Linked DNA regions of Homo sapiens. The protein of the gene in region 4 purifies or fractionates together with the protein of the main gene of each other region. This does not show direct contact. Each region holds a gene or a part of one and is shown on either strand. Other genes may lie near its edges.

Region 1 (3,100 bases), on a different chromosome or scaffold from region 4:
GGCCCAGCTCGACCCCATCACTGCTCTGCACAGACCATGACCACCAAGATGGCCTGCAGCTGCCAGGATGTTAACTGCAGCGGGACTGCAGACGGGTTCTCAGCTGCATTTTTCCTATGCTGAATACGTTACTTTTGTAACCAGAGAGAAAACGTAAGATTGTGTTCTTGCTGGGGGAGGTGTCCCGGGGTTAGCATTGCTGGCGTCCCACCTCTGCTTCAGACTATGCTGCGTGGCCCACCCACCTCACCCATCCCCAGCCCCTCCCTCAGGAGGAAACAGGCTGCATTCTGCCGCCTCCCGGGGTCCCTGCTCTTCTGTTGGCTGTGTTGTCTGTTCCCTGGGCACAGGGCCAGCAGGTCTCACGCACAGGCACGTGTGCTGCTGGATGCTACTGAATGTCTGACACTACTTCACTCAATCGACGGTGAGTCTGTAGCCACAGAACGCAGTGAGTGTTTAGGCTCAGTTACTAACAAACAGACGCCAGTGGGACACTGTTGGTTGCCTTACTTTAATGCTGACCTAGCAGCCCCGACAGGAAGCTTTAACATAAAGCCTTGACCCTGAGAAGCATGGGTGCGTCTTGTCGTGAGCAGGTTCATGGCTGTGCTCCATCCTCAGCCCGCTGATTTTTGGTCTTTTGTCCTTTGATCCAGCAGTTCCCACGTGGATGTTGTACTGCTTCTGTCCTGGAGAAGAAGAGTGAGGTCCAACTCTGAGCAGACACCACGTCATGTGGCACAGGGGGCTGACAGGCGTAATCAGGTTCAGGGTGCCTGTTCCCTCACCGGCCTGTCCTAAAAAGCTTGCCAGGCGCTTAGAAAGGGCCCCACTACCTCCAGCAGAAGGCCAGGAGCTTCAAGGCACCTGCAGGAGGTGGCGGGGGCTGAGCAGGACCCACGTCCCCGTGCTCAGCGTCCCCTGCAGCCAACTTGGCCCCTCCCTCACGGCCCTCCCACCTCATTTTTTATGGGGGTGGGTTTCTCTACTCAGAAGCATGGGCAGGGCGCAGTGGCTCACGCCTGTAATCCTGGCACTTTGGGAGGCTGAGGTGGGAGGATCACCTGAGGTCGGGAGTTTGAGACCAGCCTGACCCACGTGGAGAAAACCTGTCTCTACTAAAAATAAAAAATCAGCCGAGCATGGGAGTGCATGCCTGTAATCCTAGCTACTCAGGAGGCTGAGGCAGGAGAATCGCTTGAACCTGGGAGGCAGAGGCAGAGGTTGTGGTGAGCCGAGATCACGCCATTGCACTCCAGCCTGGGTGACAAGAGTGAAACTCCGTCTCAAAAAAAAAGCATGGTCACGGGGGATGTCTGGGCCTCTGATGGCCCCACGTCCTGTTGACCTACCCGGCTCCTGGGGTGATGTCCCTGACCTTGGTGCGGCACTCACCTTGATGTTGATGCCGTGGGCAGTCAGGCCCCGGCGCAGGGTGTCGCATGCTTCCAGCAGGGGCTGCCTTTCTAGGAGCTGCTGCCGCCGGGCGTCCCCCGTGGCCTCGGGCATGGCCAGCGCAAACTGCCGGACCTTCTGCCGGAACCGCACCAGCTCGTCCACCACACCATGCAAGGTAGCCTCGCTGCCGTCTCCTGAAACGTACTGAAGCCAGCAGGGCGCGGTTACGTCCCCCGGAGACTGTGGATTGTGGATGCCCCCTCCCCACCCCGTGGTTGGGCTCTGGGCCGACACCCACCCAGCCCTGGGCTTCCCTGATTCCCTGCAGCTGGGCCTCTTTCTGGGTCTGGCAGGGATGGGTACAGCCCGCGAGCGCTGGGCTCTGGGCAAGGCTCCACTCAACTCTGAGCATCTGTCGTCCAAGCAAGGCTGAGTGATCCTCACTCGGGAGTTGGAAGAAAGGGCTGGGGGCTGCATGCCGCCCCGCCCTGAACACAAACGCTCCCTGGCTTCCAGACCTCACGCAATTGTGGCCGAGGTATCAGGAGCAACCTGAGGATGAGGCTGGGGGGCAGCGACTGAGCGCTTGCACACGTGTGTTTCGGCAAATGGTCTGAGATTCACAGCCTCAGGTGCTGAGGACGGGATTTGCGCAGAAGGCCTCGCGCTGTCCTCCCACTGAGAACAGATCCTGGGGCGGTGTGGAAGGGGCAGCTGTACCTATTTGTTAAATCCATGTGTGTAAAATAAGAAACAGACACAACATTTGACCTTGGTGTCAAACTACTTAAACCTCACACACCCCTCAGTTATTGCTTCCATGATAAAAGACAGTTTTTGTTATTACAGAAATATGAGCCCAGAGTGGGCCCAGACATTGGGCCTTGCGGCCAGAGGAAGGTGAATGAGATATCTTTGACAAGGGCTAGGCAGAGCTTGGCCAGATCCCACTTTTCTTACTCAAAACAGACTCCGGAAAGCCACCCCTAAAAATGAACATGTACATTGCAAAAACTTGGGTCATCTCACACCAGTCGACTTTTATGTGATTGGCAACAGACGCCGGACTGCTGGAAAGGGGAACTAAGTCTACCAGGTGATCAACAGGTATACAAATGAGCCAAACTTGGAAAAGACACTATAGTTCTCTGTTGAGAGCCAGCGAGACATGTTTGGCCCAGAGCCAGGCCTTCAGCACACCTGCTTGGGCCCCAGTCCCAAGCGGCGGGACCCTCGGGGTGCTGGGCAGCTGGTCTAGAGTGGCAGCCCCCGTCCAGGCAGCAGCAGCCGAGCCACACCCCAAAAGAGCCAGAGCGCCTTGTGCTGAGAATTCTACAAGGGTGTCCAAAGAATGACAGGGATGTTCAGGGACACAGCGCCAGCCCCAAGGGGCCTCTGTCAGCCACATACAAAGTGATGGTGGGGACTTTAAGAATAAGGCAGGAAACCTCAAATCTGTATTGATAGAATAAACGAGTTTCAGGTGAGCCTGATAAGGAAGAGGACATTTTCATAGGATCCAAGTCTCTTTGCAAAAATGCTCTTGAGTTACAACGGAAGAGAAGGAATGTGGAGAAGCCTGGCAGCGTCCACCTTCACTGCACAGCCAGGGTGAGCCTCGCTGGGAAGGTGCAGGTGACTCGTGCCTGTCGGGGAGCCCGTCCTGTCCGTACAAAACATGTGCCAGGCAAGGGGGCTC
Region 2 (4,077 bases), about 150 Mb from region 4:
CAGGCGTGGTAGTGCGAGCCTGTAATCCCAGCTACTCAGGAGGCTGAGGCAGGGGAATCGCTTGAACCCGGGAGGCGGAGGTTGCAGTGAGCCGAGATCCCGCCACTGCACTCCAACCTGTGCGACAGAGTGAGATTCCGTCTCAAAAAAAAAAAAAAAAAATTAATAGCCACCATTTGTTGAGGGACTTGTCTTGTATGTGACAGTCCTGGGCTATGTATTTTGCATGTGTCCTCTCACATAATTGTTTCCATAACCCCTTGAGGTAAGTACTGTTACTCCTCCCATTTTCCTGAAGGAATTGAGTTTGGAGAACCCAGTGCAGGCCCTAAAGCCCCCTACTAACCTCTTTACTCATCTCTAAGGCAGTCATGGCTTTAAACCTAAAAGTATGCATGAATAGCCCAGGCGCGGTGGGTCACGCCTGTAATCCCAACACTTTGGGAGGCCAAGGCAGTCGGATCACCTGAGGTCAGGAGTTCAAGACCAGCCTGGCCAACATGGTGAGACATCCTGTCTTTACTCAAAATACAAAAATTAGCCGGGCGTGGTGGCGTGCTCCTGTAATCCCAGCTACTCGGGAGGCTGAGGCAGGGGAATCGCCTGAACCTGGGAGGCAGAGGTTGCAGGGAGCCAAGATCGTGCCATTGCACTCCAGCCTGAGTGACAGAGCAAGACTCCGTCTCAAAAAAAAAAAAAAAAAAAAAGAATATGTATGAATAAAACCCACAGATGACCCCAAATCTTGAAGCATTCCTTCTGTAACCATTTCACAAGTGCTTATTACATGCTGGGCACTCTCTCCAGGACCTAGGATATAGCACCGAAGAGACGGCTGTCTCATGAAGCTCATATTCCAGGTGGGTGAGACAGACAAGAAATGAGCAAAGAAGGAAGTTTCAGGTAATAATCAGTTTACCTAGAAAATAAAACAGCATGACGGGAGAAGTTTTTTTGCCGCCTATCCTGGCTTCAGACTCTAACCGGTAAGATGAGTCTCAGCAACGTGCAGGTTAAAACCTAATGACCTGACGTGTAATTAATCCCAGCGCTTTTGGGGGCAGGGATGATGGCTTGCGCCCAGGAGTTCCAGACCAGCCTGGTAACAGAGTGGTGCTCTGTCTCTATGAAAATAAAATAAAATAATCCGGGCATGGTAGCGCACACCTGTGGTCCCAGTTACACTGGAGGCTAAGGCGGGAGAATCGCTTGAGCCCAGGAGGCGGAGGCTGCATTGAGCCGAGATGGCACCACTGAACTCCAGCCTGAGCAACAAAGCGAGACTCCATTTCTAAAAGAAAAAGAAGACAGAGAACAAGAAAAACTAAATAAATGGCCCCTTAAAATCATCCGCCACATAATAAAGAGCCTAGGAAACGTATTTTACTGAGATGGGAGAAGGGGAGTGGGGAGGAAAATGGGAGAGCAGAGGGAGGAAGGAAAGGCAGAGAGAAAGGCAAGCAGGCAATGACTAAGAAAGAAGGCTAGAAGGAAAGGGAAGAGGATGTGAATGGAGGAGGTGGTCCGCTGGCCGGGGAAACCGCATCCTGGAACTCGTTCCTAATCCCAGTTCCGAGGGAGGCGGAAGGGGCTTTCTTGCCACCCCCAAGTTGTCCCGAAGGGCTCGCCCTGCAAGGCCCGAGACCCGTGCGCCCCTCTGGGCGAGGGCGGGGAAGGCTGGAGCCCAGGGGCGGGGACCGGGACGGGAAAGGCCGGGCCCGGGGCTCCCAGTTCGCTCTGGGCCCGCAGAAAACCCTGCAAACCCAGCTGCGCGGGGACTCCGTGGGCGCTGCGCGGCGAAGCTGGAAACCAGCGCTGAGACCTCTCGGATTCCCCCCGGCGGCTGTCCCGGGGGCCCGGCTCCACCTTTGCCGTTCCGGGAAAAGCGGACGTCAGCCACAGACCCCAGCCCAGCAGGAGGGGCCGCGCGCGGGGAAGGGCGCACAACACCAGGGAGCTTCGCGCGGGCGGCGCTGGGCCCGAGCCCGCCTCTCCCGAGCTCCGCTTGCCCTTCCCGAACCCCGGGCCAGCCGGCGCGCCGAGCCGCAGCCCCGCCCTCCTCCTGCTCCTCGCCCCCTCCCCTGGTTTCCGCCCCAGCCGCACCGCCCCTTTACCGTCTGGGTCGCGCCCGGCGCGATTGCATCAGAGCCGGCGGCCGGCTGCGCACGTGGAGCCGGGCGTGCGGTCCATGCCGCTAGGCGCCCATTGGAGATGCCCACGCCCACCTGCGCTGCGGGCCCGGTCGGGTACTGGATCCCCCGTTCTCCGCCAGCGCTCCCGGCCGCAGTGCCCAAGCCCGCGTTTCCCGACACACCGCCCGGCCCCCCTAATGAGTTGGCACCAAACACTCGCAGCCCCGCGCCCCGCTCCCCACGGCGGTCCCGGGCGCTCCGCCCCTGGGTCGGGGCCACAGCCGCTGGAGACCTGGGCCAGGGCCAGACCCGACACTCACCTGACGATGGAGTCCCGCGCCGCGGGCGTTCGGCCGCCGGGGCTGCAGCTGCTCCGGGCCTGGCCATCCTGCGGCCGCCGCTGTCCAAGCAGGCCCTCCCGGCCACCGCCGCCGCCTCCGCCGCCGCCGCTGCTAGCGCGACAGGGCACACGGAGGCGGCGCGGAGGGCCCGGGGGCTGGGGCGGGCGGCGGAGCTGGCGCAGGACGAGCGGCAGACGCGTGCCCATGGCGCGGGACGGCTGGTTCTCAGGGGACACGGAGCTGCGGCTGCCGAGGGCGGCGGGGCGCGTGCCAGGGGAGCAGGCGGCGGCGGCGGCGGCGGCGGCGGGAAGGACCTGGCGCTTCCTCCTCGTCCCAGGGGCCCCTAGGGGGCACTGCACCCGGCGGCCGTGACGTGCGGAGGGCGGGGGCCTGCGAGCCGCCGGCCGGGATGTCACGGCTTTGGGCACTTTGGTTTGGTAAGCTGTACCAGACAGAGGGTGGGGTGCGGAGTGGGACTCAGACTCTGCCCTGAGACTCAGCCTCCCTCCCTTCAGCCTGAAAGGCCGAGGTGACCCTTGGTACTCAGGGCGCCAAGTTTAGACGGGAGGGCTTGGATTTGCTGTACTGGAGGTGGCCTGAGGATAAGAGGCTTTGTAACCTTAGGCAGGGGCACTTAATCTCGGTGAGCTTGCGGGGTCTTCGTCAGTACCACAGAGATAACAATGCTCTTCTTAAAACCTTAAAAGGATTTTATAGTCCTGATTGGTTCCAGGGCCCCTCCAGGGGACCCACGTCCACAAATGCTCAAGTCCTTGGTAAAAAAAAAAAAAAAAAAAAGTGTTTGCATATCACCTACACACATCTTCCCATCATAAACTTTAGGTCATCTCCACATTCCCTAAGTCCTCACCTAACATCGTGGAGGGGTTCTTGGAAACTGAAACTTTAAGCCAAATGACTGTAAGGAAAACAGTTTGACCACAGGCTAATTGATATGAGTGAAGTTCCTACAACATATCTGTGGTCACAAAATCGCCCCTAAACTTCGAAATAAAGACCAAAACACTTCTAATATTAAACATTGAAATAAGTGTGAGCCATGCATATATTTAAGGAAGATTTTTAGCTCACGCCTATAATCCCAACACTTTGGGAGGCTGAGGTGGGCAGATCACGTGAGGCCAGAAGTTCAAGACCAGCTTGGCCAACATGGCGAAACCCCATCTCTACTAAAAATACAGAAAATTGGCTGGGTGTGGTGGCGCGTGCCTGTATTCTCAGCTACTCGGGAGGCTGAGGCAGGAGAATCGCTTGAACCCAGGAGCCAGAGGTTGCAGTGAGCCGAGATCATGTCACTGTACTCTAGCCTGGGCGACAGAGCACAGCTCTGTCTCAAAGAAAAAGTTTTTTTTAAACACCCCCTATCCCTCTCGCTTAGAGAAAAATAAAGATTAATAAAAGTGAGATCATTTTTACCGGCTTATTCCAACTCAGGGCACCTCACAGGGTGTGCTCACACACACCCACACTCACACTCGGATCGTGTAGATGCACCAATTTACCTAAAGTGCACTGCACGGCTTTGGGATGTGACAGGACACCAGAAGACAGAGAAAATCCACACAGACATGGATAAAACGTGA
Region 3 (3,500 bases), on a different chromosome or scaffold from region 4:
CTTGCGGCCATTTCTGTCCACTGCAGCTTCGTGAGCCCGTGGTCAGGAGCGCTGACCAGGACTCTCCCCAGTCCCAAGGAGGAGCTAGCTGCCTGAGCCTCTGATCCTCCTAGGTTGGCAGTACACCGCCCTGGGAACTCCCTCTGAGCCTCGGTGACCTCAACGTGAACAACCGGAAGGTGGGCCTGGCCTACCTGATTTCTTCACCGCTTCCCAGGGAAGCACTCAGTCAATCCCTAGAACTATGAGTTCACCGCAGGTGACTAAACACCTTCCGGAAGCACCCCGAACAGCCGTGGGCCAGAACCTCCTCTCAGCAGAGCCCTGCCTCCCCTCTCTCTATGCGCCCCTTAGCTCCAGGCCCCTCCAAGACCCACAGCCACAGGTGACCACCTGGCTGGAAGGCTAGGGGTGGTTTTACCACGAAGCCCTGCCCCTTCCTTGTCCCTGCTGGTCCACACCCCAGGCAGCTGCCCTCCCTCCCCAAGCGTCTGCTCTGGGGCCCCTCCCCTAAGCCTGGGGAAGGTGCTTACCACAATGACTTTGTTGGTGATGAGGTTTTCTGGGCGATCTGACCTGGAAAAATCAAACCATGCAAAGGCAAACGCTTCCTGCATTGACCTCCCGCTCCCGCCCATGTGGGGTCTCCCTGGGTGATGCTGAGGGCTCTGTAAGTCCTGGATTCGGTTCAGGGACAAGGGGAGATGCTTTGCAGGAGGAGAGGGGAGGGGAGAGAGCAGAGAGAGAAAACATCGGCCTTCCTCTCTGTGTTTCCCTAAGAGAAGCCCCGCCCCACTCCCGACCTCTCTGGCAGGGGTAGGAGATGAGGGACAGTCAGGCTGGACTGACCACAGGGAGATCTGGGTCAGGGCCATTTCCTCAGAGCCTGAGTCCTGAGACACTCCCTGGGCTGTGTGACATTACTCACGTTTCTTCCATCAGGAACTCCACATCCAGCTCCTCCTCTCCCTGAAATCAGAGAGCATGAGCAAGTCATCAGCACATACCTGTGTCTTCAGAGTTGACACAGTTCTTTTACAGGTGTCATCTCATCCTCTCAAGCGGTCTCCAAGGGAGGCACGTTAGTACAATTATTTCCAATTTATGGATGAGGAAACTGAGGTATGGGGCCAGATGGGCTACCTGCCCACATTGCCCACAGCTAGTAAGTCTGCAGAGAACAGGTCTCCCTCCCTTGGAGGTCCCACAACTCTGGGCAAGACTGAAGGGGAAGACAAGGAGCACAGCCAAAGGAGGCATGATGTGCAGGACCCATATCTTTTTCTTGAGGAGGGCCCAGACCCCCGAACTCTGCCGTCCCCACCCCCAGGCTGCAGCAGGAAGGGACGTGAGGCCTTCACAAAGCAGGCCTTGGCACCACCAGCAGGAGTGATGGATGCTGAGCTGTGTTTTGAGGGGTGGCCTTCCTGCCACAGGTGGCTAAAATTCCTCCACTGGGTGATTCAGCCTGTAACTGTAAAGTGAAGCCTTTTCCTTGCTTATTAAAATGCAAATCTAAAAAGGGGTTTAGATTTTTCTGTGAATGAGTTCACCCCAGCAGCCTCCCAACAGGTGGGAGAAATAGCTACTTCCTCAGCTTGGAGTTGGAAGAAGTGGGGCCCACGGGGACTTCCCCACCCACCCACCCACCTGGGGACTCTGGGAGAAGGTTTTCCGGAGCAGCTTGCCAGGGAGGACTTCTGAGATGTCATAGAGAACCTTGAAGCAGATGTCATCCTCCGTGACTGAGTCCTCATCATAGATGCTAAGCTCCAGAACATTCTAGGAACCAGGAACAGCGACTTAGCATTTTACCTGCTCATAGTGAGAGTAGCTCACCTCTGTTGAGCCCTTACTTGATGTCTAGAGTCAGAGAAGATCATTATGCCACCACACGTCTGCGCTTCAAAATAAAAAAAAAAACTGTAAAACTTAAATATAAGGAAATCTTATTAAATTTCAAATTTCCTCCTTCTAATTTTTGTTTTTATCAAACATAAAATTCTGAGCTGGGCATGGTGGCTCATGCCTGTTATCCAGCACTTTGGGAGGCTGAGGTGGGTGGGTCACCTGATGTCGAGAGTTCGAGACCAGCCTGGCCAACATGGTGAAACCCCATCTCTACTAAAAATACAACAAATTATCTGGACATGGTGGTGGGTGCCTGTAATCCCAGCTACTCGGGAGGCTGAGGCAGGCGAATCGCTTGAACCTGGGAGGCGGAGGTTGCAGTGAGCCCAGTTCGCGCCATTCAACTCCAACCTGGGCAATAAGAGCAAGACTCTGTCTCAAAAACAAAACAAAACACATAAAAGTCTGTCAAATAATTCCCTCTTCCTCTCTCCCTGTCTGTGTGTCTCTCTCTCCCTGGCTTTTCTGGCTCCCTGAGGTGCACCCTAAGGTATGTGCTGGTGATCTTTCACGGTCTTCCACGCATTATCTCATCTCACCCCACAGTGACCTGATCAGGAGGGGGCTCTTACTGTCTCTGTTTCATAGCTGGGCTTCGAGAGGAACCCAGCTTGTGGGAGTCAGTCCCACAGCCAGTTGGTGAAAGGACCATGTTCATTCTTTCATACATTCCCTTGCACACAGCACAGACAGGCCAGGGCACAGAGACCCCCTACTGCTGAGAGTTTCTCTGACAGCCCCAGAGGAAGCATGCTCTACCCCAGGAACCCTTGCATGGGGGTCCAGCCCGTTCACAAGGGAGTGGCCAGGAGTCCCGGGCCTTCACCTTGACCTGACTTTGGATAAGGAAACGGAAGGCCTCATTCCACACAGGATGACTGGTGTCGGTGAGCGTCTTGGTCTTAAACTTCATTCCAGGTGCGGTCGACAGCTGTAGGATCACGTAAGGGTCGGCCTCACTCACTGCCAAGGTTAAGGAAGTCTTCGTGAGGGAGTACTCCCCACACCCCTCTCCATGAGCCATGCCAGTTTCCTACCAAGACCCTGGCGGTCACCGCAGGTGACCCAGCCCAGCCCCAGGGCACTCGTCTTGGCCCTTCCTATGGGATCTGGTCCTCCCTGCTCCCGACAGAGCGCACAGGGCGGTTACTCACACAGGTCAGCCCAGCGCAGGTTCCGCGCCTCCAGGACCCTCACTGTGAGCTGCCAGCAGGTAGAGGCCTCCCCCTGAAGAGAAAATCAAACTCCAGAGTCCTTCCTGCATTCCCTCCCTTATGCCTGGAGCTGCAGCCCGGGCTGCCGACACCCCTCACCACTCTCCTGGTACTTGGTGGTGCTGACACCCCTGCCAGGCGTTCCGGGGACACCCTCTGGGGACCAAAGAGCCTTTGTCCACTTCTGTTTTGGGGGTCATGGTTCTGGGCTGCAGCAGTCAGGGAATAGCAGCACACCCAGATGTGGAATTTGTGGAACCCCTTCCCCTTCGGGAACAGAGCAACATGGGTAGTGGACAGAGCAAGGAAGTGAGGGCCAAGGAGTGGCAACCACAGAGGTCAGTTAGATGTCAGCCATTCCCAGAGCTCCCAGGG
Region 4 (3,500 bases):
TGTGCATATGCATGCCTGAGCAAGGACCTTGAGAACAGTTCTGTAGATCAGAGAGGGGACCCTGAGCTCTGCTGGATGGAGTGAAGCAGGGTATCTGGTAAAGCAACTGTGGGAAGAACTGGCAAGAGCCAGGCTGTCAGAGAACAGCGTCATGGGGAGGTTGTGTGAGTCCGCGGGTGAATCAGAGAGGGTCTGGACATGCGTTTGGCAGGGAAAATGGACAAAGATTACATCTTAGAGAGGCCGCCAAGAAAAAAGAATGGAATGACTGGAAAATTAAAGGTAAAGAATTAATATTACTCCAAGATATTTGCTGCCCGGACCATAAAATGGTGTAACTACTGTGGCACTATCCTGCAAAATGAACATCTGGAACTTCCATCACCTAGCAAATTGTCTCCTAAATGTGTATGAAATTCTCCCTGTGTGCCAGGAGCTCAGTCCAGGATGTCCACAACAATACTGTTTATAGTGGCAAAAAAATGAAAATGCCCACGAGCAACAGAATGTTCACTGCCTGCTATTTATAACAGCAGAAAAAGGCAACTTAAAAATTAAGTTAATTATCTACTATTAGAAAACTGGTGAAATAGGCCAGGTGTGGTGGCTCATGCCTGTAATCCCAGCACTTTGGGAGGCCAAGGTGGGTGGATCATGAGGTCAGGAGATCGAGACCATCCGGACTAATGCGATGAAACCCTGTCTCTACTAAAAATACAAAAATTAGCTGGGCATAGTGGCATGTGCCTGTAATCCCAGCTACTCAGGAGGCTGAGGCAGGAGAATCGTTTGAACCCGGGAGGCAGAGGTTGCAGTGAGCCAAGATTGCGCCACCGCACTCCAGCCTGGGTGACAGAGCAACACTCTGTCTCAAAAAAAAAAAAAGAAAATTGGTGAAATAAGATACAGTACATCCATACAATGGAATAATATGTGCCTATCATACAACTAGTATAAATGCATATTTATTGACATGAAAGTTATTTCCTTGAAAAATTGTTCAACAAAAATAGTAAGTTAGAAAAACGTTAGGTGTAGCACGATGCCATCAATATGAAACTGCGTTTGTGATGTAATAAGACTGGCCAGAAAGCAGAGCCGCCAAGATTTGGTAGTGTCTCTAGAGAGCTGGACTGTGGGCTATTTCTACTTTCTTCTTTATACCTATTTGAACTCTTGGGGTTTTCTATAGCAATCACATGGTATTATTTTGTAGAAAAATATAACAACAAAATTTAAACAAAATAAATGAAGACAGGCCCAGCCACCCTTCCTCCCCTGGCCCTTCCCTCAGAGACCTACCTTCATCAAATCAACAGCATCTTTTGCATCCCTTTCAAAAAAGTCTGCTGGGAAATCGCGATCTGGGGGCCTGGAATGTCCATAGCCTCGAGGATCCCAGGCGACCACCGTGAAGAGCTTCTTATTGAGGTTCTTGAGCTGAGGTCCAAAATCAGTCTCTCCACTTCCTAAAAACAGCCACTTGGTTACCCTCAGGTGATCGCTTTCACTATCAAACACATTACAGTGAAAACAGAAGCAATAACAATCTTAAAAGCAAAGTAGTTTCTACTCAAAGTGGTCAGAATGTAATCAGGAAAGCAGCCTTGCAATGACTTAATCCATCCACTCGAAGAAAGGAGGCAGGCTGACCGGGTGCGCCTGTAATCCTAGCACTTTGGGAGGCCGAGGCGGGCGGACTGCCTGAGCTCAGGAGTTCGAGACCGGCCTGGGCAACACGGTGAAACCCCATCTCTACTAAAATACAAAAAAAAAAAAAAAAAAAAAATGTAGCCGGGCATGGCGGTGTGCGCCTGTAGTCCCAGCTACTCAGGAGGCTGAGGCAGGAGAATTGCTTGAACCCGGGAGGCGGAGGTTGCAGTGAGCCCAGATCGCGCCATTGCACTCCAGCCTGAGCACAGGGCAAGACTCAGTCTCCAAAAAAAAAAAAAAAAGGGGCCGGGCGCGGTGGCTCACGCCTGTAATCCCAGCACTTTGGGAGGCCAAGGCGGGCGGATCGCTTGAACCAGGGAAGCAGAGGTTGCAGTGAACGGAGATTGCGCCACTGCACTCTACCCTGGTGACAAAGTGCGACTCTGTCCCTCCACCAAAAAAAAAAAAAAAGGAGGCGCGCTTCCTTTCCCGGCGGAGTGCAGGCCTGCCTCCGACCTCCCCCTGGTGGCTATTTTGAGAAAGACAGAGGCCCTGGGTCTTCCTTTGCTTCTGTATTATTTCAGCACTTTTGAAACCTCTTTGGCTTAATCTTCCTTTTCTAAAGGAAAGAATTAATGAAACTGTATACAAATTAATTCACAGATATGCTTCTGGGTTATCTATTCTTCTTAAAACAATGACTTACACATGAGAGGGATCTCTATAATATCTGCAAAGAAATTTATGAGATTTGGTCCAAGTTATTCAAAGTAGAATTCTAAAATTCCAGATTTTTAATTTTTTTTTTTTTTACTAAGCTAAGGTGAATAGCCTAAAGATTTTATTTTGTAGTTATAATTAAAAACCAGGAAAACTAAACAAAAACACTGAAATGCAGAAGGGGTATGGAGGAAAGAAACCAAATCAGTTTCATCAGAACAGTATGAAACAGCCCATGCTAAAAGCTGAATTCTATTAGTGGGCCTGCAGGGAGCTTGGCCGCTAGTCCACAGCCCACCACGTGGTCCCTGTAGGTGTGGTGTGTTCACACCTACTGTGCACAGTGCAGAAGGCCACTCTCACAGAGCCCAGTCCAGGGGCAAGTCAGCATTTTATCAGTGAAGTCTGCTGATTTCTGAGGACTTCTACCTCAGGCCACAAATGACTACTAACCACTTTGCCTGACAAACCATATTAGAAAATGTCTTTCAAGGTGGTGCAGGATCATTCAACATTGTCAAGGCCTATCATTTTTCCTGGCAAGATATATCTTTCCCAAGATCAAGTAAACCATTCAGAAAATTCAAGCCAAAACCAAATGAATAGATCTCCAGCCCACATCTGCTGCTGTGACCCATGAGGCTTCTCTTCTGCCTCTGACCTGGAGGGGTTCTGGCCACGGAAGTACCCTGAAGGAGGGGCAGGAGGTGAGAAGATGGGAAAAAAGAACAGTCTAAAAGACCAATTTCAGAAACAAGAAGGCATTTGCTCCCTGGCACACATGTACACATTTGAAGACCAGTGCCAAGAATATAAAACTTAAAAAAACATTTAAGGAATACATGTACATAGTTATCAGCATGTAACATCTGAGAGGCCTGTGGGGAGGGGAACTGGGTGCTGAGGATAGGACAGGAGAGAGAATCTCCTCTGGTCCATTTTTTTTAATATTGGAATCATGCTAATACTTTACATAAAAAAAAATTAAATTGGGGACAGGTGCTGTGGCTCATGCCTGTAATCCCAGCATTTTGGGAGGCCGGGGCGAGTAGATCACCTGAGGTCAGCAGTTTGAGACCAGCCTGGACAACATGGTGAAATCTCGTCTCTACTAAAAATACAAAATT

The links. The genes of interacting proteins can lie anywhere in the genome.
Region 1: the proteins of BPHL (region 4) and CARS2 fractionate together in Homo sapiens (co-fractionation; one large-scale study listed by BioGRID). This does not show direct contact.
Region 2: the proteins of BPHL (region 4) and MTHFD1L fractionate together in Homo sapiens (co-fractionation; one large-scale study listed by BioGRID). This does not show direct contact.
Region 3: the proteins of BPHL (region 4) and PLA2G4D purify together in Homo sapiens (affinity purification with mass spectrometry; one large-scale study listed by BioGRID and IntAct). This does not show direct contact.

The regions. Positions count from the first base shown.
Region 1 is NC_000013.11:110,640,917-110,644,016, forward strand, and holds the end of CARS2 (probable cysteine--tRNA ligase, mitochondrial), read right to left. Parts: intron 3,065-3,100; exon of another isoform or gene 2,417-3,064; intron 1,606-2,416; coding exon 1,399-1,605; intron 693-1,398; coding exon 621-692; 3' UTR 501-620; downstream 1-500. UniProt on the Homo sapiens protein: Mitochondrial cysteine-specific aminoacyl-tRNA synthetase that catalyzes the ATP-dependent ligation of cysteine to tRNA(Cys). In addition to its role as an aminoacyl-tRNA synthetase, has also cysteine persulfide synthase activity.
Region 2 is NC_000006.12:150,864,425-150,868,501, reverse strand, and holds the start of MTHFD1L (monofunctional C1-tetrahydrofolate synthase, mitochondrial isoform 2 precursor), read right to left. Parts: upstream 2,801-4,077; 5' UTR 2,680-2,800; coding exon 2,453-2,679; intron 2,170-2,452; exon of another isoform or gene 2,144-2,169; coding exon of another isoform or gene 2,115-2,143; intron 2,056-2,114; exon of another isoform or gene 1,290-2,055; coding exon of another isoform or gene 1,168-1,289; exon of another isoform or gene 920-1,167; intron 1-919. UniProt on the Homo sapiens protein: May provide the missing metabolic reaction required to link the mitochondria and the cytoplasm in the mammalian model of one-carbon folate metabolism complementing thus the enzymatic activities of MTHFD2.
Region 3 is NC_000015.10:42,084,563-42,088,062, forward strand, and holds part of PLA2G4D (cytosolic phospholipase A2 delta), read right to left. Parts: intron 3,139-3,500; coding exon 3,066-3,138; intron 2,875-3,065; coding exon 2,738-2,874; intron 1,783-2,737; coding exon 1,651-1,782; intron 970-1,650; coding exon 929-969; intron 577-928; coding exon 534-576; intron 1-533. UniProt on the Homo sapiens protein: Calcium-dependent phospholipase A2 that selectively hydrolyzes glycerophospholipids in the sn-2 position. Has a preference for linoleic acid at the sn-2 position.
Region 4 is NC_000006.12:3,125,211-3,128,710, reverse strand, and holds part of BPHL (serine hydrolase BPHL isoform 1 precursor), read right to left. Parts: intron 1,470-3,500; coding exon 1,303-1,469; intron 1-1,302. UniProt on the Homo sapiens protein: Specific alpha-amino acid ester serine hydrolase that prefers small, hydrophobic, and aromatic side chains and does not have a stringent requirement for the leaving group other than preferring a primary alcohol.